7 linked regions of the Homo sapiens genome follow. The protein of the gene in region 6 purifies or fractionates together with the protein of the main gene of each other region. This does not show direct contact. Each region holds a gene or a part of one and is shown on either strand. Other genes may lie near its edges. The genes, in order: EDNRA, SLC38A12, TMEM184C, EDNRB, FAIM, GNA11 and ZDHHC9.

Region 1 (2,679 bases), on a different chromosome or scaffold from region 6:
TAAAAAATGGGACTGTCTATAACTGAGCAGAGGAATATTAGGCAGGGTAAGCTGGAAGATATCAGGAGCTTCATTCTGCATATATTATGGTGTACTAGCCATCCAACTGTGGATGTCAAGTAAACAGTTGGATATATATGAATCTTTTCCTCCAGATATCTACCTAATATATTGCTTATTGACTGTAACTGTTTATTGCCTAGAATGCAAGCTCCATGGAATCAGGGACTTTGCCTGTTTTGTTTACTATGTCCCCAATATCTGGAAGAATGCCTGGTGCATAGTAGATGCCCAATTAAACTTACTGAAAAGGTAAATGAAGGAATGAATGACAGAGTTAAATGCTCAGTACAACAAAATAGGTTGGTTGAGAATAGAGGTAGGAAGTACCTGTTTGATAGTAAACTGCTTTCCAGGATATTACTAAGGAGAGGTTTGCAACAGGCATTATGTAACAAACATTTTCTATGGAAAACTACATAAAAATGAAGAGACACTTGCAAGGTTTCTGTAAACTTTTATTTTACACTTATGGGCCACTGCCAACTCAGGGCCTTGGCTTCTGGCTCATTTCTACAAAGTTACTTGTTGAAAAGATGTAGTAAAGGTAGAAATTGGAAATATTCCTGCTAGTAAACCACAGTTACTTACCAGTCCATAAATAAAATGCACGTTGACGCCTTCAGAAATCTATGACTTTCTGAATTTATAAAATGCATTTTTTTCATATGAAAGAAACAAAGCATCTTGAAAAAAAGACAATTGTCTAAACAAAATGGTGTGAACCTATGGCTTATATTATAGGCATATATCACTGCATATGATGCGCCAGTGGAATAATAGATTTGACTGCTAACACACAAAAGGGCAGTACTTCTTAGCCTTGCAATTCAAGCAACTGGAACCTGATGTTATTTTACCTGTCCTAAAATATGGCCCAACAAATTATCTTACCTAATTTATTATCAGCAATCTGTCTGGCGAAGTCTGAAAGAAATATCAGACAACCTGGCAATTTCATCACCACATTGAATTGAGGATAAGAACAATATAATACTTCAAAGTGTAATGACTTTTGCTCCAGCACAGGAAACAATATGACCCCAAATACTGCTTTATCAAACCAACCAACCAAACAAAACCCTATATTGCTAGTCCACAGCTCATCTGCTTTCACGCTGCCTCTTATATCCCATTTGTAATGGTAACATGATTACAAGATTTATGAATGCAGAAGGTTGCTACAGGTTAAAATGGACTGAGGCAGGTTGTCATGATGAACAATCACCTAGATTTTACTCAGACTATGCACTTTGGCACAACTGCGGGGCACAATTATTAGATTAGATTAAATCCATACATACCATCACACACATGCATATATCACACACACAAATATATTCCACAGAGACAGTCTAGAAAAATGGGCTAAAAGAAATTTACAATTGTTTATATATATACACACACACACTAGTAAAAGATTTTCTGCTGTACTCACAGTCTGTAAACATCTGGGAAAATGCCCAGCAAAAGTCACTGTGGGCCCTTTGAAATGGTGACAATGTGGGAGGGAGATGTTGGGGTGGGGAGTTAGGTTCATACTGAAAACCCCAAGAAGTGAAGAATCGTAAGTTCTGGTGGCATTTGTGGGTAATTATTTTTCACTGACATGATAAACTCATCTGGCCACTTCAAAATTATGTTTCCTATATGGAAAAGGGAATGATCAAAAAAGACTTACTGCCAGTTAACATTTTAAGAAAAATTAAGAGAATAGGAGGTGATATGTATATACATATATATGTCACTATTACAAATACCTGAATGAAAATTTCTGAATCATCTGAAAAATTCGATCTTTTTCTCTTAGGTGTGTTTTAGACTTCTATATACAGTGCACTGAAAGTCTCAGGCAGAGTTAAATGACACATACATTAACATTTTGGTACTTGACATTGATTTTTCATACAAAATTTACATGAAAAACAGATTGAACTTGTGAAAAAGAACTATCTGATTGAAGCATTACTTTTGAATTTAACATACAAAACATGTTCAAGGTCCCTTGTAATAAAACACCATTTAAAAAATAAAATACAGTTCTTAAAAAATTCTTTGAGTAACATCTATTAAACTGCCAAATGTGTCATCAGACTGTGCTTTAAGGGCCTGTAGTATTTGTTGTAGCTTTAGAATTTGTGTTTTAAAAAAATAAACAGTGACGTGGAAAATACTAATCTAATTGCTCACCTGAATACTATTTTTGTCTTTTTTTTTTCAAACTATGTGTAAATAAGTTCAAATAATCATGTTAGGCTATTATGCAGTTAAAAAATACTGGCACCAAATGACATTTCAAATAAAAGTGACTTGAGCCCATATTGTGTTTGGCTGAAGGACAAAAAAATCACTTAAAAAAAGTAGAAAATCTTGTCGTTAATCTCTAAAGTTTCATGGTGACCAGTTCCCATTGAACATTCACCAGAACTGCCATAAAAGCTAGCCATGTACTTGAAAGCTCTATTTTCATGCAAAAGTAGTAAATATCCTTCTGGTTTCATTTAACAGTCTTCATTCTCCCCCAGCTCCCACCATTTTTTAGTGCTGAATACAACACGCAGAATATGTAAATTAGATCAATTAAAGAAGTACGATTCGTAGATGTTGTGGGTGGATAAA
Region 2 (4,235 bases), on a different chromosome or scaffold from region 6:
CCAGGCTGGTCTTGAACTACTGACCTCATGATCCACCCGCCTCAGCCTCCCAAAGTGCTGGGATTACAGGCGTGAGCCACCGCACCCGGCCGTTTTTTTGTTTTTGTTTGTTTTTGTTTTTTTGTTTTTTTTGTTTTTTTTTGAGACAGGTTCTTGCTCTGTCACCCAGGCTGGAGTACAGTGGTACAATCACAGCTCACAGCAGTCTTCATCTCCTGGGCTCAGGCAATCCTCCCACCTCAGCCTCCCTAGTAGCTGGGACTGCAGCTGTGCACCACCATGCCTGGCTAATTTTTGTATTTTTTTGTAGAGACAAGGTCTCGCTACGTTACCCAAGCTGGTCTCGAACTGCTGGGCTCAAGCAATCCTCCTGCCACAGCCTCCCAAAGTCCTGGAATTACAGGCGTGAGCCACGGCACCCAGCCTTTTTTCCCCCCTCATATATAATTATTTCTCACAACCAATGTTTCTTCTTAGGGGAAATAGCCCTGAGACTGGGGCTGTACCTTACACAGCTCTGGGTGCTGATACGCACCCCATGTCAAGCGGGAAAGATACCTGGGCACATGCTCCGAGGTGTAGGGTACAAGGACCACCTTCTTCCCCAGCAGCAAGGTGTTCTGATTCAACCTCATGGTAGCAGCCTGCATGCAGATGGGGAGAGCAAAGACTTCAGGACCCTGAATTTCCTCCAACTTTGGGTAGGCGCTCCAGCTTTCCTGCTGGGGCTAAGTTGACTTCCGTCATTAGTTCCGTCTAGACACTTCAAAGAATACAGACTCCAAAATTCTTGCAAGAAAGAGAACCAGGCTGGTTAAGGATAATTAAACAATCCTTGACTCCCACTCCAAGAGGCCAAGCCTGGGCTCCGTTTCTGCCGGTTCCTTCCGTCCACTCCCCAGAACTTCGATTCCTCAAACCCAAGCACCAAGTACCAAGTACCAAAGTATCCCCAGAGCTCCCATTACTTGCCCCAGTCCAGGGATTCCAACCCAGAATCAACTTTCAGCCCTGCCTTAAACCTACTTCCAACCTCTTACCCCGGCGACCACCCCACGGGGCTCTAGCCACTCCCTCCCCGCCCCCGACCACTTCAGGGCAAGGCGGGCTTAGTCTTAGGCCCTCCCCTTTGAGTGGCGTTCTAGACCACTCTCTTCGACCCTCCAACCACGCGGACCCGGGTACTGCCAAGCTCACACCCACCTACCACCGACGAAATCGTCCCCCGCAGAAAGGGTGATCTACCTCCTCCAACCAGCCACGTTCCCAGGCCCGGCCGGCTACCGCCCCTTCCGCATGCGCGTGAGAACGCGCCCCGCCCACTTCCGCCATGCTGACGGCAGCCGCCAGGCCCCAATCCCGGTCCCGCCCCCGCGAGGCGCCCAATCAGCGCGCGCGAAAAAGGTGGGCTGTGGGGCCGGCGCATGCGCGCTGCGGAAGCTGGTGCTGGACAGCTGGCGCCGGCAGCAGCGGACCGGCGGGAGACGGCGGCTTGGGAGCTGGCTGTGCTGCAGGTGTTGGGTCGGGTCGGGTCGGGACGGGCGGGAGAGGACGAGACGGGTCGGGATAGGTTGGGGCGGGGCGGGGCGGCACTAGACTCGGGACTCCTCCAGGAGGGAGAGAGAGGGAGAGGCTGGGAGTGGGGTTCTTGAGAAAAGAGGGAGCTTTGAGGGTGGGGAACCCTAAGAGAGTAGGTGGGGCCAGGGAGTGGAGGCCCCATTAAAAAAAGGAGGCCTTAGTGCCAAGAGTGGAGTTGGAAGGGCAATGTAGGAAAGCCCCCAGCTCCCTGCCCTAGGCAGAGGCGGCAGACAGTTCCTTGGGCTCCCATGTGTGGTAGTGAGCTCCTGGTTCCTGGAACTAAACGAGGATAACCACCCCAGAGCGTGGAAAGGGGGCTCTTGTGGTGGGTGAGACTTAGTGGTTTTAGAGGCCCCTTAAATCACTTGCACCCCGAGCAGCATTGAAAACATCCGTGCTGGGCACAGAGCAGTGCCCTGCACAGCAAGGGAAATGTTAGAAGAAACCGTCCAGATTTCTGTCATCCAGGGTGACCCCTCCCTCGGGGGTGAGTCTTGTGACAGATACTGAGGCCCTAAGTGTCTGTGATAAAAGAACCAGAGGTGGCAGGGGAAGTCTGCAAGCCTCCTCCCACCCCTGTCTCAGTCCATCAGATAGGTGAAGCCTGCTCTTTTGTTTTAAGGAGCTGCGGCAGCCGCCGTCCTTGCACCTAAGGAACCTCTGCTGCCAGCCCTTCCTCACTTTTGGAAATGGCGGGTGAAATTACAGAGACCGGGGAACTCTACTCTTCCTACGTGAGTGTGACTTATAGAACCTTTTGCTCACTTAAGTGTTCCTGGCTTCTAGAAAAGCACATTGCTTGCTGGAGATGGGACTAGTGAGTGCTGCTGCTTGAGCAGACCATAGTGGAAGCAGGATGGGGGAGTTCCATGGGGCAGCGACTACAGTGCTGCTGTGGTGGCTCAGAATGTAAGTCAGATTTATTCTCTTTTTAAGGTGTTTGTCAGAGTGGTCAAGCCAAACAAAATCGCCATGCTGTTTATAATGTTAATCCCGGGCTGGGCACGGTGGCTCACGCCTGTAATCCCAGCACTTTGGGAGGCTGAAGCGGGCAGATCACCTGAGGTCAGGAGTTCAAGACCAGCCTGGCCAACATGGTAAAACCCTGTCTCTACTAAAAATACAAAATTAGCCGGGCATGGTGGCACTGTAATCCCAGCTACTCGGGAGGCTGAGGCAGGAGAATCGCTTGAACCCGGGAGGCGGACGTTGCAGTGAGCTGAGATCGAGCCGTTGCACTCCAGCCTGGGCAAAAAGAGCGAAACTCTGTCTCAAAAATAAAGAAATAATGTTCATCTCCAGGCTACCACACTTGCCTGCAGTGCTGCCCTTCAGATGAACAGTGATTGACAGCTGTTGACTCTGGGTTTTGCTCATCTCAGCAGTTGGAAACCGCTTTGGTCTTTACTGAATTTTAAATTGCACAACTTTTATAGTCTTGGATGGCGTAAGAAGCAGCGAAAGCATACAGAGACTTCTAATTACAGTTTGGTGGACTCTGCAATTAGAACAATTAGAATGATTGATTCTCACTGTCTTAGGTCTGTGTTACCTCTGGCTGCCCCCAACACACACGCAGTTTATCTTCTCTATGTAACGTATGATTGGTCATAGTTGTTACATCACAGGGCCCTCTTGCCTGGATAAGTAGCCAGAGGGTTGGAATAATCAGATGGTTGACTCAGGTTGCTACCAACCCTCCCAGGCAAAAGCAGCACTGCCCTAAGTAGCAAGAGTTTTCTAGAACTTGACCTGCCTTCAACAGCTGCCCTGCCTTGTACATAGCTTCCTAGCCTGGGGATCTCTGGTCTGTTTCTGCTAGCTTCACAGACTAGCATTGTGGTGTGATGGACAAGGAAGTGTCTCCAAGACATTTCCTTCACAGCTGGAAGAAAGCCTTCCTGATTCCAGAGTCTTCCTATTGGGCCTGTGCCATTCATGTGTGGCAATAAAGGAGCCTTCTTCACCCATCACCTGTGTAATTTCTCAGGGGAAGTCTTTTTTTTTTTTTTTTTTTTTTTTTTGAGACAGAGTTCCACTCTTGTTGCCCAGGCTGGAGTGCAATGGTGCAATCTCGGCTCACTGCAACCTCTGCCTCCCAGGTTCAACCTCTGCCTCCCAGGTTCAAGCAATTCTCCTGCCCCACCCTCCCAAGTAGCTGGGACTACAGGCATGCACCACCCTGCCCAGCTAATTTTTTGTATTTAGTAGAGACAGGGTTTCACCATGTTGGTCATGCTGGTCTTGAACTCCTGACCTCAGGTGATCCACCCGCCTCAGCCTCCCAAAGTGCTGGGATTACAGCCGTGAGCCACTGCACCCAGCCTCTCAGGTGAAGTCTTTCATGAACCCTGGAATGGAATAAATAGTGTCCCTCTCATTTGTGGAATTATGTAACAGCTCCTAGCCTCCTGCTGTCAGTGATGAAATCTCTATGCTGTCTATTAATGTAAAAGTCACCACGGCTCCTGCTTTTTCTTACAACATCTGTAAATTTAGAGATAAGGAGATGAGTCATCCCTGTAACTAAGTTTTGTAAGGAAAACACTTGGATATGTCCCCATTTCTTGTATCTCCGGTTGTTTAAGGGGTCCTCTCACATGTCAGCATGTGCCCACAGGAAATGAGGCAGTTAGGCCTGCAAGCTTCAGTGCGCT
Region 3 (3,500 bases), on a different chromosome or scaffold from region 6:
ATTGCTTGAATATGGGAGGTGGAGGTTGCAATGAGCTGAGATCACGCCACTGTATTCTAGCCTGGGTGACAGAGCAAGACCATCTCAAAAAAAAAACACAGTAATCTTTGAAAATGAAATTTAGATACCGGTTCTCTGCATAATATCCTATAAATGGTTTCTCATTTGACAAAGACTCTCATTTAGACAAACTTTAGACAAGCCTCTGATGCCTCTTTTCAACTTGGCTTCATCCTTGGGCCTTGTCCTTGTCCTGTGTCAGTCAATCTAAAAGAATCTTGCTAAGTCATTCCCCAGCCCCCTTTGATATCTGATCACCTTTGACATCCGATCAAATTCCTCAGCACCCACCTTGGATGACTAAGGCCTTGGCCTGCCTTTAGCAAGAATTCTGTTCAGTTTAGTGAGAATCCTCCTAGCCCTGATGTCCCCTCTTCGTAATTCTGCATTCGCTGACCCCCTCAACATGCTCTAGCTATAAATGCCCATTTGTCCTTGTTGCCTTCAGAGTTGAGCACAATCTGTCTCCCTTGATAACCAATCTATATTAATTTGTCATTACTATTCTCTCATGGCCTCCTGTCCTTCTTCCTTCATTGCATTTCCTGAAATAACTAACTATATATTTGTGTCTTAATTCCTAACTCTCCTAACCAAACTAAGTTCCATGAGGTCTATGTCTGTTCTGTGCACTAAGGTATTTCTTTATACTAGCACGTACTTGGTGCTCAACATATATTTGTCAAATGAACACATTAGTAGCTTATTTTTTTAAAAAGCCAGGTAGCTCCCTGTCATTTCAAGGGTGTAAATAGAGACAAAATTTGTCAGGACGTTGTACAAATGGTCCTGTACTGCATAGGAGGCAATGCACCCATTCTTATGTTGTATGTCTACACTGATCACTCTACCTCCATTTACCTTGGCTTGTAACTTCCACCTTATTCCTCATTTATTAGTGAAACTGCCTTTGCAAAATTATGACTGAGACAGTGAAAGAGATAACTTAAACCGACTCCATCTTGTGTCTAACCTCCAAGCTGTCCTTGTTCATTCCTGGGCGTAGGCTGAACTAACTTTGAGAGAAACTTAGTTTATAGTTTCTCCCAAAGCTATAGAAATAGCCCTGCCCCAAAGCAAACCTCCTTGCCTGGGGACTAGATTGCCTTTGTAGGACTAACATTAGCCATAAGATTAGAAATTATGGTTTAGGAGTCATGCAGCTGGAGGCTACAAGATTCTGGCCCTCCCTAAACTGCTCCTAAGATCAGTGCTTGTGATATTTTGCAGACCCTGCATTTGTTGAATCAGCTGGCACCACCCAGATCAATAAACGGGCTCATCTCACCTTGTGGCCCCCACCCAGGAACTGACTCAGTATAAGTGGACAGCTTTGACTCCCTATGATTTCACCTCTCTCCAATCAGCACTCATGGCTCACTGGCTTCCCCCTACCCAGCAAATTATCCTTAAAACTCTGCTCCCCGAATGCCTAGGGAGACTGATTTGAGTAATAATAAAACTCCTGTCTCCCGCACAGCTGGCTCTGTCTGAATTACTCTTTATCTTTTGCAATTCCCGTCTTGATGAATCGGTTCTGTCTAGGTGGCTGGCAAAGTGAACCCCTTGGGCGGTTGCATTAGTGGACATGTCCTATTGATTTTTCAGTTGCATTCTCTTATTGCCTTTCTTTTCTATTCCAATCTCATCCCCCTTTTCAGTTTTATTTCACAAATAGATTATTATAAACTCCTAATTTATTTCTCCATCTCTGGAATCTTCTTCCTTCCAATTCATCCTTTATGATATTGCAAAATTAATCTTTCTAAAACACTGTTTCCAAATGTTTGCTTGCTGAAAAATACCAAGTGGTTCATTTCTATAATAAATGCAATTGTAAACTCAATTTATTTTTCAAAATGAAATGACATAAGTTTTAATGTCCTACATGAACATATAATAAGGCAAGCTGATGTATTATGTTACCAAACACTGTTACTTATTGCTCCTACTTCATATCATATGTGGTTCTACAACCTACATTATCTTGTCTATGTCTTTTAACTAGCTGTGTGTTCTTACATAAGATCTGCAGACCTTGGTTCTCAACTGCAAAAGCATATTGATTAAATGATTACTGTTTTTACCTGCAATACTTTAATTTTTGGATTTGGGATTAATAATGTAAAAAAGACTAACATATATGTGGGATTACAAAACTGTTTTGTTAGCCTTCAAACAACTATGAACTGCATCAGGAGCTGTCTTATACTTATTGTTCTGCTATTAATACTTAATGCACTGCCTTGTAAAGAGCTGATTGCTACTTAAAAACTCTGCTTAAATGAAAAACCAAAACATAAAAGAATTAAACCAAACATACTTACTCTCCCATAGCCCATGGTGGACAGCAACATAAAGGAGGGAAATGTTTCTGTTGATCTTTGGCTTCAAGGATTAATACCAGATTTGGATACCGGTTAGTTAGATAATTGGTAAGGAATCCCATAAAGTTGTAAATTACATAAGCTTCATAGCATTCTCTGCAGGTATCCACATATATTGCAATTCCGGGATATTTCAAAGCTATCCACTATGAAAAAGCACAGATGTTAAAGATAGTTGCAGCTAAGATAAAATGAATCACCACTCCATTCATGGTACTCACAATAAGCTAATTTTTATGCTTGAGATGTCTTGTCATATACTTACATGGGACTCTCTAAAATTTATCATTATGAGGGCTATCAATCTGTGAAATGAATGCTTAAAAGCAATAAACATCTTAGATATTGGTAAACAAAAACAAGTGTTTGAGGGGTAAATAATGAATAAAGAGAGAAGCTAAAGTAAGTACTTGTGTTCTTAAATCTGAAGTTTTTCTTAATATGATCATAGATAATGCTGCTAAAGATATTTCCTTTAATATTTACTCATATTAGAAGCAGTCATCTACAACAATTTCATGTGTATCCACTGGGGAAGGTTTTTAAATTTTTGATTCAAATAAAAGACGTAATAAATAAAAAGAGTAGTATATTAATTTAAAATATTACATTCTTTAACAATCTGAAAGTTTAAAAGAAAGCAAACAGCTATAGATTTTTAAACATTTATAATATAACATTTTACATTTTTAATTATACTTTATATTCTCTATCATTAGAAACAAGTGAACCTTTTTACTTATTAATCTGACTCCTTGTCAATAACATACTTTCATTATCTTAAGCATTCTGTAATTATAGTATCATCAAACAAGTCCTTAGTTAATGAGATAAAAATGAAACATACTTACACTATCTAAACTGTAAATAGGTACCATCCAAAGAATCCTATTGGAAAAGGAAAACAGAAATTTAAAACATTTTATGTCATATTTATGAAATAAGCCAACACAACAGTAGTGGAATCAAAATTATTAAGACATACCTTATTATTGGTTTTTGTAGTTCAGGTTGTGTATAATGCACTAAGTGTTGCAATATCACCCACAGTGA
Region 4 (3,934 bases), on a different chromosome or scaffold from region 6:
CAGCGCCCACAAACCAACCTTAAATATCACAGCGGCGGAACATTTACCTGAAAGAAAAGTGACACTTGGCATTAAAAGTTCAATTATCACGTTCAGTGCAGAGCCTTGTTCTAGTCTGGAGCTGCCGGGTGTCACATGGTGCGTGATAACTTGCCCTTGATTTGGGTTCATTTGAAGAGCGTAGAACTCTAACAAATAAACAGCCTTTTGGGACCTGTCCCCGGACGAGGACTGCCCCCCTCCCTCGGGCAACTACTACTGATGCTGTCCAGGCATCGCCCAAGGGGAAAGGTTGCAGCGGGGTCGGAAGGCGCGGGAGGAGTCTGGCGGTGATTGATGGGAAGGGATGAATGAATAAAAGTACTTGTCTGATGGCAGCAGAGACCCCGAGCAAACGGTGGAGGCTACACTGTCTGGCATTCTCGCAGCGTTTCGTCAGAGCCGGACCCGCCTGCAGCTCAAGGGAGGCGTGCTCCTCTCCCAGAGCAGGCTGGAACCCAGCTGGGTTCCGCCTCCCGGGAAGGTGGTCTCCATTCGTCGCTCTGCATCTGGTTTGTCAGATCCGAGAGGTAAACATTCGGGCTTGGTGTTGAATTAAAATCATTGATTGAACCTTATTCTGGGGCTTCGGTTTGGCTTACTAGTTTGGGATTTTAAAAAAATAAAAATTAAGCCTATAGAGAGGGCAAATTAAAATTAGGTTGGGTAAAGGAAGGAGCGCGAGTGTTTGAAGCCGTTTGGAGGGAACAGCGGTTTCCAAGTTCCTGCTGACTTGAGAAGTCTCTGCGGGTTTCCGAATCTCCGGCGCACTCCTGGGCGCGCTGCGGGAGCTGTAGCTCAGCCAGCCAGGGAGTAGCGGCTTTCATCCGCCGGGAGGAGTCTTTCGAGTTCAATCGCGGGGTATAGAGGTTCCCCTGCGGGGCAAAATGCAGAGCTTGACACAAGCCCTTGGCCTCTAGGTGCCTTAATTCCGCGGTTCCCACGCACGCTTAACTAAGACGTGTCTGTATTCCTCCCGTTACGTGAAAGAGTTCGGAGCTTTGCCTGGGACCCCCATCATTCCCTCCCTGGCACACCCCTTCCAGAACGCCCCGCCCCACTGCATATTATTTACCCCTCCTGGCCACGCGGGGGAAGAAAAACAGCTGAGAGGGCATCAGGAAGGAGTTTCGACCCGCGCTGGCGAGTCATGAGCGCCAAGTTTCCCACTGGCGCGCAAACTTGAGTTACTTTTGAGCGTGGATACTGGCGAAGAGGCTGCGGGCGGTATTAGCGTTTGCAGCGACTTGGCTCGGGCAGCTGACCCAAGTGTCCTGTCTTCCTTCCTCTGCTTGTCTCTAGGCTCTGAAACTGCGGAGCGGCCACCGGACGCCTTCTGGAGCAGGTAGCAGCATGCAGCCGCCTCCAAGTCTGTGCGGACGCGCCCTGGTTGCGCTGGTTCTTGCCTGCGGCCTGTCGCGGATCTGGGGAGAGGAGAGAGGCTTCCCGCCTGACAGGGCCACTCCGCTTTTGCAAACCGCAGAGATAATGACGCCACCCACTAAGACCTTATGGCCCAAGGGTTCCAACGCCAGTCTGGCGCGGTCGTTGGCACCTGCGGAGGTGCCTAAAGGAGACAGGACGGCAGGATCTCCGCCACGCACCATCTCCCCTCCCCCGTGCCAAGGACCCATCGAGATCAAGGAGACTTTCAAATACATCAACACGGTTGTGTCCTGCCTTGTGTTCGTGCTGGGGATCATCGGGAACTCCACACTTCTGAGAATTATCTACAAGAACAAGTGCATGCGAAACGGTCCCAATATCTTGATCGCCAGCTTGGCTCTGGGAGACCTGCTGCACATCGTCATTGACATCCCTATCAATGTCTACAAGGTAAAGGGCGCCTGCTGAAATCATGGTGGGCTTGAGGAAGGGGGCCTGGTTGGAGACGGGGAGATGAGAAAGCTTGTAGAGGGAGCTTCCCTTTAGCTCCCTCTTAAGGTTCTGCCCCTCCTAAAAGTCAGTAATCTTTGGAACCAAATTCCATTTGGTTCTGTCCACTCATAAAAGTCAGTAACCATTGGAATAAAATTCCATTCAGGTCTTCAGTAGACCTCTGCTAAGCTTAGGACAAGCGTAGTCCCCAGTCTAGCAATGTTAGTATCACTTTGGGAACTTGGTGCACATGAAGATTTTTCTGGCCTCACCCCAGACCTACTGAATCAGAAACTCTGGAGTGGAGCACAGTAATTTGTATTTTAACAAGCCCTTTATGTGATTATGATGAACTGTAAAGTTTGAGAACCACTAGTCCTGAAGGATCTAGTCCCTAAGTGCACCTAATGGGGTACATCCTCTAGTCAAAAGTGTGTGGTCCATGGACAGTCAGCATCAATATTACCTGAGAGTTTGTTAGGAATGCAAGGCTACCTCAGACTTACTAAGTTAGAATCTGCATCTTAAGATCTTCATGTGATTGATATGCCCACTAACTTTGGGAAGGACTGTTTTGGAAGACTTTGAAAGTAGCAGGTACAAAGTAGGTATTTAGGAAATAAATGGCCTGGAAAAAAGAGATCCAGACTGGTGAGTAGGAAAAACACAGTTCACCTGCTGTGACGGACTGTAGCTACTTTGTATTAAATATCTACAGTGGGCCAAGGACTGGGTGAGATGTGTTACTTCCATTATTCCTTCCAGCAGCCCACAAGTAGATATTACAATTAGTTTACAGATGACTGGTAGGATGATCAAAGTAAATGAATTAGAGGTGGAGCTGGGGATCAGACCCAATCTGTCAGGTTCCAAAGTGCAAGCTATATGATGGCACCCCATCAATTATTTCATGGACAAGACCAAGGAGCACTCAAAATCTGTAAGGGTTTCGGTAGTTAACATTATTGTGTGATTACCATGGGCGTCAGTAGAAACACACAAAGAGCCAGGTTGCTCCAGGTTGCTTTGGAACTCCAGACACATCCCAGCACCTCTGGGCCTCAGTTTCCTCAATTCCACAATAAGGCTGCCAGTGCCCACTTACTGAGGCTTTATGGTGTTAAAAAAAAAAAAGCAGTCTAAATAAAACAGTTGGAAAATTTCAAAGACATATGAAAATATTTAAAACTTTCCCAGCAGCAGCAGCAGCAGCAGCAATAGAAAGTTGCACATAAAAACACAATCACAGTGTAAGGAAATGGAATTGTGCTTTGCAGATTTGCCTATAGCTAGCCCTGACTTCAGTACTTCAGTACAAGGGGAAAAAAATGGAATGTAAAGTTGGGAAATGTTGTAGGGAATGCTTTGACCTATTGGCAGGAGTAGTTACCATAAGGCATGCCTGTAAATTTCCCTTCATAAATCTCTAAAAATCCTAACCCAATAGCTATATTTTAAGGGGAATTCCGAACATTTCTGAGGTTTAGCGGTGAGAGTGGATTAGGATATAGTTTTCTCTAAAGGGAATCACCCCCGGAAATGGGGGAATCGATTGAAGAAATCCTAAAATCCTGTATGGCAATTGATTCTGATGAACTGTGAGGATTTACTTGGTAAGAGCTGAAATTGAATCTCTAAATGCAGCCACAACTCCATGAGGGCCAGAAGTGACCCTTTTACTTCTTAAGGCGTCCCACAAACTAAATCTTCCCATTCTAATTTGGCAAAGGAATTTCAATTCAATTCATCAAAACCGAATTGAGAACTTTTCAGTACAAGGTGTTGTGATAAATTTAAAATAAATCTAACAAGATCTCTTCCCAAAGGGAGATTAAAATCTAGTTTTGCTAGGTTGGCACAGGATTTTATGAAAGTTCTGTTTAGGGGGTCAGGAAACCCCACATGTCCAGCCCAGTTAGAAACCTTTCTAAATCAGACAGTAGCTGAAGTGCTGTGTAGAAGGTGGGATTGAGAACATTTTTTTAGTTCTGGTGTGCTGCCTCCAGGACAGATATAA
Region 5 (3,500 bases), on a different chromosome or scaffold from region 6:
TTTTTATCAAGAGGGCCTTGATTCATTATAAGATCTCTATAATTAGGAAATGCAGCAACAATTCAATGGTAACTGAGACACATGGCACTTAGAGTCATCAAATAGTCAACTTACCGCTGTCTCCAATTTTTTACCATTGCACCATACGTCCATAGCATCTTTTTCTGTAAAGGTAACATAAAAACTTTAAGTTATAATTCTGTGATTTAAAGATAAAGTTAACTTTTCCTATTTATTACTTTAGGAAAGGATTGATATACCAGATCTCTAAAACTCCATTAATATTCCAAAACCCAACACTTTTTCATGGCTTTCATGGCTTGCAGACTCTCCTAAAATTTGAAGAAGCTGTGTTTGTTCTTTGTTCATAAAACTATAATGAAACAAAACAACCTTTTAAGAGAAAGTTATGGTCTTAATACAAATTGATGAAGCCTTATGAAACAAAATGAATCCAAAAGGACAATCTTTAAAGAAGGATGCATACAGGCCGGGCGCGGTGGCTCACGCCTGTAATCCCAGCACTTTGGGAGACTGAGGCAGGCGGATCACAAGGTCAGGAGATCGAGACCATCCTGGCTAATACGGTGAAACCCCATCTCTACTAAAAATACAATAATTAGCCGGGCATGGTGGTGGGTGCCTGTAGTCCCAGCTACTTGGGAGGCTGAGGCAGGAGAATGGCGTGAACCTGGGAGGTGGAGCTTGCAGTGAGCCGAGACCGCACCACTGCACTCTAGCCTGGGCAACAGAGAAAGACTCCATCTCAAAAATAAATAAATAAATAAATAAATAAATAAATAAAAAAGAAGGATGCATACAGATGAATGTGAGGAGGGACCCTTCCATACAAAATGCCCTTCAATATTGACCAGATGACTCCCCTGCCTCCCACACTCACCCAACTGGGTGATGGCACAAAAGACCACTGAAAGCAGCTGCCACGGGATTTATATAGGATAGACAGCATGTCCGCTTTAGAAATCTAGTCCAGCTTCTTACTAGGTAGTACAATAATGTCTATTCCTTTTCATAATGGTTTCAGTTTAGAGAAAAATTATTGGATTACAAGTAAAAAATAGGTATAGCTGGTGGACTGCACACTAAGGAACAATATGGAACAAAATGCTGCCCCGACACACTTAAATGGATCAGTTAACTTGCCATAGCTCATCTCAGGGTGGAGGAGTCCCCAGAGCCCCTTGCAAATGTTAGTGTCCTCAGGAGTAGCAGGAGAGAAGACTACACTAATCAAGAAGCCAGAAGTTGAGCTTTGGGTATTACAGTGAAGAAGAGAAGGAAGTATGGCCTGTATGTGCACAAGGAGTCTGGGGGTCAGGTTTGAGGCACCAGTCCAGGGTCTTACTGCCTGGCCATCTGCTCCAGGAGCACAGTCTAAAGGGGGTTCTTTCTCTCCCCATACCTTGAGATGGGAGCCTCACTTAGAGATGGGAGAAAAGCCTTTGAGGTGCGCTAGATGGAAAAAGAGAAAGCCAGAGGGGTCCAGGAGATATGGGCAGGGGTCACCTCAGTGGCAGCCTTCATAGAAAGCTGCTATAGTCACAGGTGCAGGTAAACTCAACTTGTCCCAAGACATGATCAGTGCACACAGTGCTATGATAAACCACGATGATGGTAGAAACTGGTATTTTACTTGCTATGCTTACTGAACATGTACGTGTACTCAGAGTTTCTACAATAGCGTATTAGCATGCCTCTGAAGAACACTACTAATCCAGAAGCCCTAAAAGAAAATGTATTAAATTTGACTACATAAAAGTACAAAAAAAGGCCAGGCACGGTGGCTCATGCCTGTAATCCCAGCACTTTGGGAAGCTGAGGCAGGCAAATCACAAGGTCAGGAGTTCAAGACCAGTCTGGCCAACATGGTGAAACCCCGTCTCTACTAAAAATACAAAAAATTAGCTGGACGTAGTGGCGGGCGCCTGTAATCCCAGCTACTCAGGAGGCTGAGGCAGGAGAATTGCTTGAACCCAGGAGGCAGAGGTTGCAGTGAGCCAAAATTGCACCACTGCACTCCAGCCTGGGCGACAGAGTGAGATCCTGTCTTGGGAAAAAAAAAAAAAAGTAAAAAAGCCACAGCACAATTGAAGAAAAATGCACACACATTAGCAAAGTCATGTAATAAATGACAAACTCTGAAAAAAATATGTCAAACTCACAGCATGAACAAAGGACTAAACTTACTAATGTGAAGACTATGAGAAATCAAGGAGAAAAAGACCAACAACCAAAAGAAAATGGGGCAAAGGGCATGAACAGGCATCATGAGAAAGGAAATACAAAAGAAACTTAAAACTAAGATGCTCAACCTCACTTATGAAAAAGACAAAAACAACCCTGAAATACCATTGCTTCACCTAGCAGAATGCCAAAAAATCCAAAAGTTTGGCTACATGTTCTGCTGGAGAACCTGGGGAAAATAGCTAACGGGGGTACAAAATGGTAAAAGTACCATGGAAGGCAAATGGGCAAAATCTATTAAGATGACAAATACAATTAGTCTTTGACCCAGAAGAATAGAAGTCCTACTTTCCTACTTCCAGAAATGTGTACTAATATAATATGTGTCCTGTTCCAAGAGGCATGCAAACAAAGCTATTCATGCAGCATTGCTTCTAACAGCAAAAGATTAGAAACAGCTCAAGTGTTCATCAGTTGGGAATGAGCTAAATACACCATTTACTATTGAAATTTACTCTGCAGCTATAAAAAATATGAAAAAGTTCTTTAGGTTCTGATATAAAAGGATCTTCGGAATATAATAAGTGAATAAAGCAAGATGCTTTTATGTGGTAAGAGAGAATATGTGTACTCGCTTGAATCTGAATAAAGAAACACTAGAGTGACACTAAAAATGGTTATCTTGATGGGGGAACATGGCAGATGGGAACAGGGATGGAAGCAAGACTTTTTAATGTGTCTTTTAATAGCATTTTGATTTCTGAATCTTGAGTATGTAACCTATTCAAAGTGGTATGTTAATAAAAGGACATATCTAGCTGATAAAATTTCAAATCTATTATGACTCAGTGCTGGATTTAGTGACTCATGGGAGTTGCTGCTGCATGTTCATCTTGGAGCATCTCCTCTTTGCCTGCGGATTCCCTCAGCCGCATGAACAATAGCTAGGGACTTCCCAGGTGAGTCCTGAGCAGGTTATGTTCTGTAAATGCTATCAAAGAGAAACTTTTCAGAACAGAAAGAGAATTTCCTTCCAGCGTGAAGTTTCATATGTACTTTCCTCCTGCCAGCTTTATTTTCCTCCCATGGTATTCAGTGGTGTGGAGACTACAAGAGCTGAGAATGCTAACCAACCCTGTTTTCATTGCCCTTATATGCCTCACATTTTTTAGGTGGTGAAAAAAAATGCACATGATCTTTGAGGTCAGCTCTCAGCATCACTCTTTACTAGCAGTACCCTTTGGCAAGTCACCACCACTCTGAGCTTCCATTTCCTCAGGGGCAAATGAAGATGA
Region 6 (3,950 bases):
CCTGATGGACAGCAGGCACTCCATTAATCTCTGGTCCGTGCCTGGCATATAGAATGTGTCCCATTAATGCCTGATACACAGTAGGTGTCCCATTAACGCTTTTTAATTTTTTTTTTTGAGACAGAGTCTCGCTCTGTCGCCCAGGCTGGAGTGCAGTGGCATGATCTCAGCTCACTGCAAGTTCCGTCTCCCGGGTTCACGCCATTCTCCTGCCTCAGCCTCCCGAGTAGCTGGGACTACAGGCGCCCGCCACCACGCCCGGCTAATTTTTTGTATTTTTAGTAGAGACGGGGTTTCACCGTGTCAGCCAGGATAGTCTCGATCTCCTGACCTCGTGATCCACCCGCCTCGGCCTCCCAAAGTGCTGGGATTACAGGCGTGAGCCACCGCGCCCGGCCCTCTTTTTTTTTTTTTTTCTTTGGAGACGGAGTTTCGTTCTTGTTGCCCAGGCTGGAGTGCAATGGCGTGATCTCGGCTCACTGCAACCTCCGCCTCCTGGGTTCAAGTGATTCTCCTGCCTCAGCCTCCCGAGTAGCTGGGATTACGGGCGTGCACCACCACGCCGGGCTAATTTTGTAGTTTTAGTAGAGACGGCGTTTCTCCCTGTTGGTCAGGCTGGTCTCGAACTCCAGACCTCAGGTGATCCGCCCGCCTCGGCCTTCCAAAGTGCTGGGATTACAGGCGTGAGCCACCGCGCCCGACCTCCATTAACGCTTTTTAATGGATGAGTGAAGGTTCCTGTCAGGCAATGTCAGGGCGCTTCCCGGGGGCAGCGACTGCTGCCCAGGCACCTGGAGACCCAGAGAGCGCAGCGGCCGCGTGCGCGCCTCCGCCACCGCGCCTGGGCCGAGCCGAGCGGGACCGAGCGGGGCCGAACGGAGCCGAGCGGAGCCGAGCCTGGCCGGGCCGAGTCCGCCACATTCCCACAATCCCGGGCGGCCCCGCCCCGGCTCCCGGCTGCGCGTCCCCCTTCCCACGTCGGCGCAACCAAACCCGCGGGCCCCCCGCCCTCGCCCCGCCCCGCCCCTTTCGCGCCCGCCGACGCCCCGCCCAGGCCGCTAGTCCCGCCCCCATGGTGGGCGCGCTTGGCCGCCGGCCCCTCCCATTGGCCGCACCGTCTGCCCGTCGCGGGCTGCGCTCCCAGCCTGCTAGGTTGTCCGGCGCTGTCGCTCGGTTGCGGCGGCTGCGGTTGGCGGTGGCTGCGGCGGCGGCGCGGGCTGAGTGCGGCCGCGCGGGAGTCCGCGGCTGGCGCGGCCCGAGCGGGGACCCGGCGGCTCGCCAGGCGGCGGCCGAGGCGGGGCGGGCCGGCCCGGGGCCGAGGGCCGGTGGCCGAGGCCGGAGGGCCGCGGCGGGCGGCGGCCGAGGCGGCTCCGGCCAGGGCCGGGCCGGGGGCCGGGGGGCGGCGGCGGGCAGGCGGCCGCGTCGGCCGGGGCCGGGACGATGACTCTGGAGTCCATGATGGCGTGTTGCCTGAGCGATGAGGTGAAGGAGTCCAAGCGGATCAACGCCGAGATCGAGAAGCAGCTGCGGCGGGACAAGCGCGACGCCCGGCGCGAGCTCAAGCTGCTGCTGCTCGGTGAGTGCGGCCCCCGGGCCTGCCGGCTGCGGGCCCTGCCCTGCCTGTGCCTGCCCTGCCTGTCCGGGTCGGGCCGGGACCCTCCGGGGTCAGCCCTGCCTGTGCCGTCCGGGTCGCGAGACCCTCCGGGGTCAGCCCTGCCTGTGCCTTCCCTGCCTGTCCGGGTCGCGGGACCCTCGAGTGTCAGCCCTGCCTGTGCCTTCACTGCCTGTCCGGGTCGGGGCGGGGCCCTCCGGGATCAGCCCTGCCTGTGTCGTCTGGGTCGGCTCGGGACCCTCTGGGGTCAGCCCTGCCTTTGCTGTCTAGGTCGGCACCTGGGACCCTCCGGGGTCAGCTGCGGGCCCCTGATTTCTTTGGGGTCAGCCCCTGCCTTAACTGTTCATGTTGGCACCTGGGACTCTCCGGTGTCAGCCTGTGTCTGTCCTGTCTGGATCAGGCCCCCGATCACTCCTAGGTCAGCTCCCAGCTTCTGCTGTCTACATTGGGCCTCCAGGACTCTTCAGGATTTGCCCTCTGTTCCTTCTCAAGGGACCAGTCCCTCCCTGCACAGGGACCTTCTGACCTTACCCCACCGGAGTACCCACCCCTCGCTACCCCTTCAGGGCCAGACCTTTGGGCTGTAACCCACAGGGCACACTCACCCCTCACTGCTCAGGGCCCCGCGTTGACCCTTCCCTCCAGGCAGAGCCCTGTACACTCCATGCAGGCCCTGTACCCTCCATGCAGGCCCTGTACACCCCCCCATCCCCCCGAAGACTCCTCCGTGTCCCCTATCCCCACATTCCCTTCAGGGCCATTCTCCTGCCTTCCTGTTCCGGGAAACCCCGTACTCCTCTTGGCTGGAATGCACCCTGTGGGAAAAAGACAGTCTTTCCTCTCCTCAGGGTTCCGCTCAGCTGAGGGTGGGGCGGTTGACACCTGAGGGAGCCTTTGCTTGTTGTCCCAAGCAGCTATCTCGGCAGCCTCCCCCGCCCCCTTCCTTAGAGTCCTGGTGGGAGCCACGCTGAGTCCTCGTTGAGAGCAGCCCCCCACCTGCCGGCTCCTCCCCACCGTCCTGGAGAAGGTTTGCTGGTGAACCTCCTTCTCCCCAAGGCACACCTGCTGCAGGGAGCCAGTCGGGCCAGCTGTAAAGTGTTGTCACTCCAAATAAGGGCCCCTTCAGTGGTTTACAAAACAGAAGCTCTTGCCCTGCCCCGCCCCTGCCCTCCCGAGCTCCTAGGTTAGCTCCTGGGCCGGGGGCGGGGCGGTGGGGAAGGTCGGAAATGCGTGAGAGGCAGCGGTGACGGAGGAGGGGGCGTGCTGGTGGCGGTGGCTCTTGGGGAGGAGGCAGGTCGCATGTTGTGTGGGGAACACGTTGCCTCTCCTGCCGTGAGCCTCTTAGGGCCCTCCGTGTCCCGGGTTACAGAGGTGCCTTGGATGAAACGCCTTCCTGATTTTTTTCCCCAAACTTGTGTTTTGATTTACCTAAGGGTTCTAAAATGGGCCATCTTTCCAGGGGGCCGCGGGTAGGCAGAGCCGTGGTCCTCACGTTTGGAGGAAATGTGCAGTGCGGCCCGCGTGGTGGCACTTTGCACAGAGTGGCACTGGCTGGCTTTTGTAGTGGGTCGTGGACTTTGTTTGGATGGAGGGGAGTTAGGAATTACTGGTGTCATAAAGATCTTACCAGATGGCCTTGCCCTGTGGCTCTGTGACCTCCAGAACCCCCGCCGCCATCCCTGCATGCACCCGGTCTTCTGTGCCTGCACTTTGGACTTGAGATTGACACGGGGTTCAAGGACGAAGGTCAGGGGCTCCCGTGTCTGCCGCCTTGGCTGCTTGGAGCAAGTCTGGAAGTGATGCGGCCCTTCCCGCATCCTCTGTCCAGTGCCCGCCTGTGGCCCGGGGGTGTCTGCTGCAGGAGCACCTGTGTCTGCAGTCCCACCCCCTCCCACTCTGTGAGCCTGAAAGTTGACCCCTATCAGCCTGTAAGACGGGAGGTTGCTGTCAGGCTCAGGGCCAGGCGTGGCAGATAGGACAGTGAGGAAGATGTGAGCTCACGTGCGACCCAAGGAGGACTGGTGTCAGTGCCACGCAGAGAGCCGGGGCTGTCAGGGGGTTGGGAGGGCTTCACACCCAAGGTGTTGGAGCCAGGGACCCCTTTGGGAATCTGATGCGACAGACCCTCAGAAAACTTCCCGTCCAAGCAACCTTGCATCCCAGCTGGAGGGCCCCTTGCTGGGAGGACTTTGACCACCTGAGGTCCAGGGGCTGGGGCCTCAGGGTGCAGGGGAGGGGACCTCTGTCAGGCTCCCTGCCTGCTTGTGGGAACTCATTCCACTCTCCCAGTAGGCCAGCCCCGAGCTTGCGATTGCCCCCGTTTTTCAGGGAGCAGCTA
Region 7 (3,500 bases), on a different chromosome or scaffold from region 6:
CACTCTCCCTCCTCTTCAGTCCTGAAGACCCCAAGAACCCAGTTAGGATCCCCTGGCCAGAGGTCTCTGTGACTGCCTCTGGACTCAGCACGTGCAGCAGCTTGGGAGGATTTGAGCCAGTCTCAAAAACTTTTAGCCCCAGAATGAGACCAGTGACCCCAAGCAGGAGGGCTGGGATCTGGAGGGAAGAGAGGGGGTCCAAGGGGACCCTGTGGCTGAGGCCATGGAGAACCAGTGCCAGGGCCCAAGAGACCCATTTTTCCAGTTATCAGAGGTGACTGACATCTTCTGCCACTGCCTTGAGTTCAGAAATTTAAAAAAGCTTGCAGCAAGAAAATGCCAGTGTGCAACTGGGTGACTAAAGACCAAAGAAAAACAGTTAAAAGGGACAGCTTACTTGCTCTCTGTCTCAGGTTTAACTTCTCACCTGAAATCTCTCATAGCCCTAATTAAACACAAACAAAAGTCTCTTCCATAGATAGGCTACTTCTCAGCTTCAGCTGCCTCCTGTGGTGGCTCTGGGGGCTCTGGAGGTGGCATCTCTTCGGGAGTGCTGCTGTCCTCCGGCATCTCATTTGAGTTCAGGTGTTCTGTGGGGGCCTGAGAAGGAAAAGATATGAGATTCAACACAAAGCTGTTCCTCAAAATCCAAATGCAGATAAACCTTAGACACTGAACTCTTCCTCTCAGCCCCCTGATCACACTGATGCTACAGATATGCAGCCACCAACACCAAACTCAGAACCAACACCAAGCTATCGTCTTCTCGGCAGAACACAACTGAAGTTTATTTGAGTTTGATCCTTAACTGTTGGTTGGGGACAGATTTTTCTATTATTATTAATAGTCATAATAATAGGAATCACAAATAATTACACAGGTCCTCCCCACTTCAGAACAAATGTCATAACATACTTATGTAACAAGGCCTGACCCAATGGTCCTCAATCGTGTTTCTGCCCGAACACACAGCTCATTAGAATAGTGATTCTGAACCAAAGAAGGCCAAGTGTCCAAATTTTCAGCTGGTCATATGTGGTTTGAAAATGTCCCCAAGTGATTCTAAAATACCACCCTTCTCCACTTTGAACCAAGAATAACTAACCTAGATTGTTACAATTTGAGTCCAGACTCATTTAAAAAATAATATTAAAAATGACAACAATAATATATAAACACGGGTTGCTGTACTTTAAAAGGAAATTCAAAATTTAGGAAAGGCAAAGTAGAGAACTATTATCTACCTTATAAAAAGAATTCACTTAAAAGTATGATTCTGGCCGGGCGCGGTGGCTCACGCCTGTAATCCCAGCACTTTGGGAGGCCGAGGCGGGTGGATCATGAGGTCAGGAGATCGAGACCATCCTGGCTAACAAGGTGAAACCCCGTCTCTACTAAAAATACAAAACATTAGCCGGGCGCGGTGGCGGGCGCCTGTAGTCCCAGCTACTCGGGAGGCTGAGGCAGGAGAATGGCGTGAACCCGGGAAGCGGAGCTTGCAGTGAGCCGAGATTGCGCCACTGCAGTCCGCAGTCCGGCCTGGGCGACAGAGCGAGACTCCGTCTCAGAAAAAAAAAAAAAAAAAAAAAGTATGATTCTATTTTAAAACAAAGTTCAAACTACTAAAAATCTATTAGAACTAATGAACAAGGGCCGAGTACGGTGGCTCGTGCCTATAATTCCAGCACTTTGGGAGGCCGAGGAGGGTAGATCACTTGAGGTCAGGAGTTTGAGACCAGCCTGGCCAACATGGCAAAACCCGGTCTCTACTAAAAACACAAAAATTAGCCGGTGTGGTGGTGGGCACCTGTAATCCCAGCTACTTGGGAGGCTGAGGCAGAAGAATCACTTGAACCCAGGAGGTGGAGGTTGCAGTGAGCCAAGATGGCGCTGCCGCACTCCAGCCTGGGCAACAGAGCGAAACTCCATCTCATAAAATAAAAACAAAAACAAACAAAAAAGAACTAATGAACAAGCTTGGCAAGGTTTTAGGGTATAAGATCCATATATAAAAATCAATTGTCTTTCAATACACTCCAAGTGAAAAATCCAAAAATGAAATTAGTAAAACAATTTCACTTACAATAACATGAAAAATAATCAAATATTTATGAATAAATGTAACAAAAGTGTAAAACTTATACTCTGAAAACTACAAAATGTTGTTGAAAGAAATCAAATCATACCTAAATATGTGAAAATACAGTCCATGTAAATGGCTCAGAATATTTAATCTTGTTAGGATGGCAATATTTCCCCAAATTGATCTATAGATTCAATGAAATCCCCATCAAAATTCCAGCTGGCTTCTTTTCATAAATGACAAGTTGATCCTAAGATTCATACGGAAATTTAAGGCACCCAGAAGAGCCAAAACAATCATGAAAAAGAAGTATAAAGTTGGAGGACTCACATTTCCTGATTTCAAAACTTACTACAATGCTAAAGTAATCAAGACAGCGTGGTACTAGCATAAGAACAGACATATTGAGCAATACAATAGAACTGAAAGTCCAGAAATGAACTCTCACATTTATAGATTTTCAACAAGGGTGCCAAGACAAGTCTATGGGAGAAGAATAGTCCTTTCAACAAATGGTGCAGAGACAACTGGATAGCTACAGGCAAAAGAAAGAATGTGGACCCTCTACCTCACACCATATATAAAAATTAACTCAAAATGGATCAAAAACCTAAATGTAAGAGCCAAAACTGTACAGCTCTTACAAGAAAACAAGGGCATAAATCTTCATGACTTTGGATTAGGCAACAGTTTCTCAGATATGACACCAAAAAGTACAAACAACAAAAGAAAAAAATAGACAAACTGGACTACATCAAAATTTAAAAATTTTGTGCTCCAAAGGACACTATCAAGAAAATTAAAAGATAACCCATGGAATAGGAGAAAATATTTGCAAATTGTATATCTGGTAAGAGACTTGCATACAGATTACATAAAGAACTCTTACAACTCAACAATAAAAAAGACAAACAATCCAATTAAAAAATAGACAAAAGCTCTGAACAGACACTTCTCCAATGAGCACATAAAAATGGCCAATAAGCACATGAAAAGATATTCGACATCATTAGTCATCAGGGAAATGCAAATCAAAACCACAATGAGATACCACTTCACATTCACTAAGATGGCTAGACTCAAAATGTCAGATAATAAGTGTTGCAGAGGATGTAGAGAAACTGGAACCCTCAGGCACTGCTAGTGGGGGTATAAAATGGTGCAGCCACTTTGGAAAACAGTTCAGCAGTACCTTAAAGGTTAAACATAGAGCTACCATGTGACCTAGCTATTTTACTCCCAGGTATATAGCCAAGAGAAATGAAAATATATGGCCATGCAAAAATTGGTACACAAATGTTCATAGCAGCATCACTCATAATAATCAAATGGTGGAAACAATCCAAATGTCCATCAACTGATGAATGGATAAATGAAATGTGGTATATCCATATAATGGAATATCATTTGGCCATAT

The links.
Region 1: the proteins of GNA11 (region 6) and EDNRA purify together in Homo sapiens (affinity purification with western blotting, with the first as the bait; one study listed by BioGRID). This does not show direct contact.
Region 2: the proteins of GNA11 (region 6) and SLC38A12 fractionate together in Homo sapiens (co-fractionation; one large-scale study listed by BioGRID). This does not show direct contact.
Region 3: the proteins of GNA11 (region 6) and TMEM184C fractionate together in Homo sapiens (co-fractionation; one large-scale study listed by BioGRID). This does not show direct contact.
Region 4: the proteins of GNA11 (region 6) and EDNRB purify together in Homo sapiens (affinity purification with western blotting, with the first as the bait; one study listed by BioGRID). This does not show direct contact.
Region 5: the proteins of GNA11 (region 6) and FAIM fractionate together in Homo sapiens (co-fractionation; one large-scale study listed by BioGRID). This does not show direct contact.
Region 7: the proteins of GNA11 (region 6) and ZDHHC9 fractionate together in Homo sapiens (co-fractionation; one large-scale study listed by BioGRID). This does not show direct contact.

What each region holds. Positions count from the first base shown.
Region 1 is NC_000004.12:147,542,776-147,545,454, reverse strand, and holds the end of EDNRA (endothelin-1 receptor isoform a precursor), read right to left. Parts: 3' UTR 501-2,679; downstream 1-500. UniProt on the Homo sapiens protein: Receptor for endothelin-1. Mediates its action by association with G proteins that activate a phosphatidylinositol-calcium second messenger system. The rank order of binding affinities for ET-A is: ET1 > ET2 >> ET3.
Region 2 is NC_000017.11:74,775,064-74,779,298, forward strand, and holds the start of SLC38A12 (transmembrane protein 104), read left to right. Parts: upstream 1-1,435; 5' UTR 1,436-1,514; intron 1,515-2,200; 5' UTR 2,201-2,267; coding exon 2,268-2,312; intron 2,313-4,235. Other genes in the region: NAT9 (alpha/beta-tubulin-N-acetyltransferase 9), read right to left, coding at 559-650.
Region 3 is NC_000004.12:147,623,897-147,627,396, reverse strand, and holds part of TMEM184C (transmembrane protein 184C), read right to left. Parts: coding exon 3,433-3,500; intron 3,336-3,432; coding exon 3,299-3,335; intron 2,594-3,298; coding exon 2,388-2,593; intron 1-2,387. UniProt on the Homo sapiens protein: Possible tumor suppressor which may play a role in cell growth.
Region 4 is NC_000013.11:77,916,032-77,919,965, reverse strand, and holds the start of EDNRB (endothelin receptor type B isoform 1 precursor), read left to right. Parts: upstream 1-1,134; 5' UTR 1,135-1,341; coding exon of another isoform or gene 1,342-1,392; coding exon 1,393-1,875; intron 1,876-3,934. UniProt on the Homo sapiens protein: Non-specific receptor for endothelin 1, 2, and 3. Mediates its action by association with G proteins that activate a phosphatidylinositol-calcium second messenger system.
Region 5 is NC_000003.12:138,625,771-138,629,270, reverse strand, and holds part of FAIM (fas apoptotic inhibitory molecule 1), read right to left. Parts: intron 165-3,500; coding exon 115-164; intron 1-114. UniProt on the Homo sapiens protein: Plays a role as an inducible effector molecule that mediates Fas resistance produced by surface Ig engagement in B cells.
Region 6 is NC_000019.10:3,093,212-3,097,161, forward strand, and holds the start of GNA11 (guanine nucleotide-binding protein subunit alpha-11), read left to right. Parts: upstream 1-1,150; 5' UTR 1,151-1,440; coding exon 1,441-1,576; intron 1,577-3,950. UniProt on the Homo sapiens protein: Guanine nucleotide-binding proteins (G proteins) function as transducers downstream of G protein-coupled receptors (GPCRs) in numerous signaling cascades.
Region 7 is NC_000023.11:129,805,887-129,809,386, forward strand, and holds part of ZDHHC9 (palmitoyltransferase ZDHHC9), read right to left. Parts: intron 601-3,500; coding exon 484-600; 3' UTR 1-483. UniProt on the Homo sapiens protein: Palmitoyltransferase that catalyzes the addition of palmitate onto various protein substrates, such as ADRB2, GSDMD, HRAS, NRAS and CGAS. The ZDHHC9-GOLGA7 complex is a palmitoyltransferase specific for HRAS and NRAS.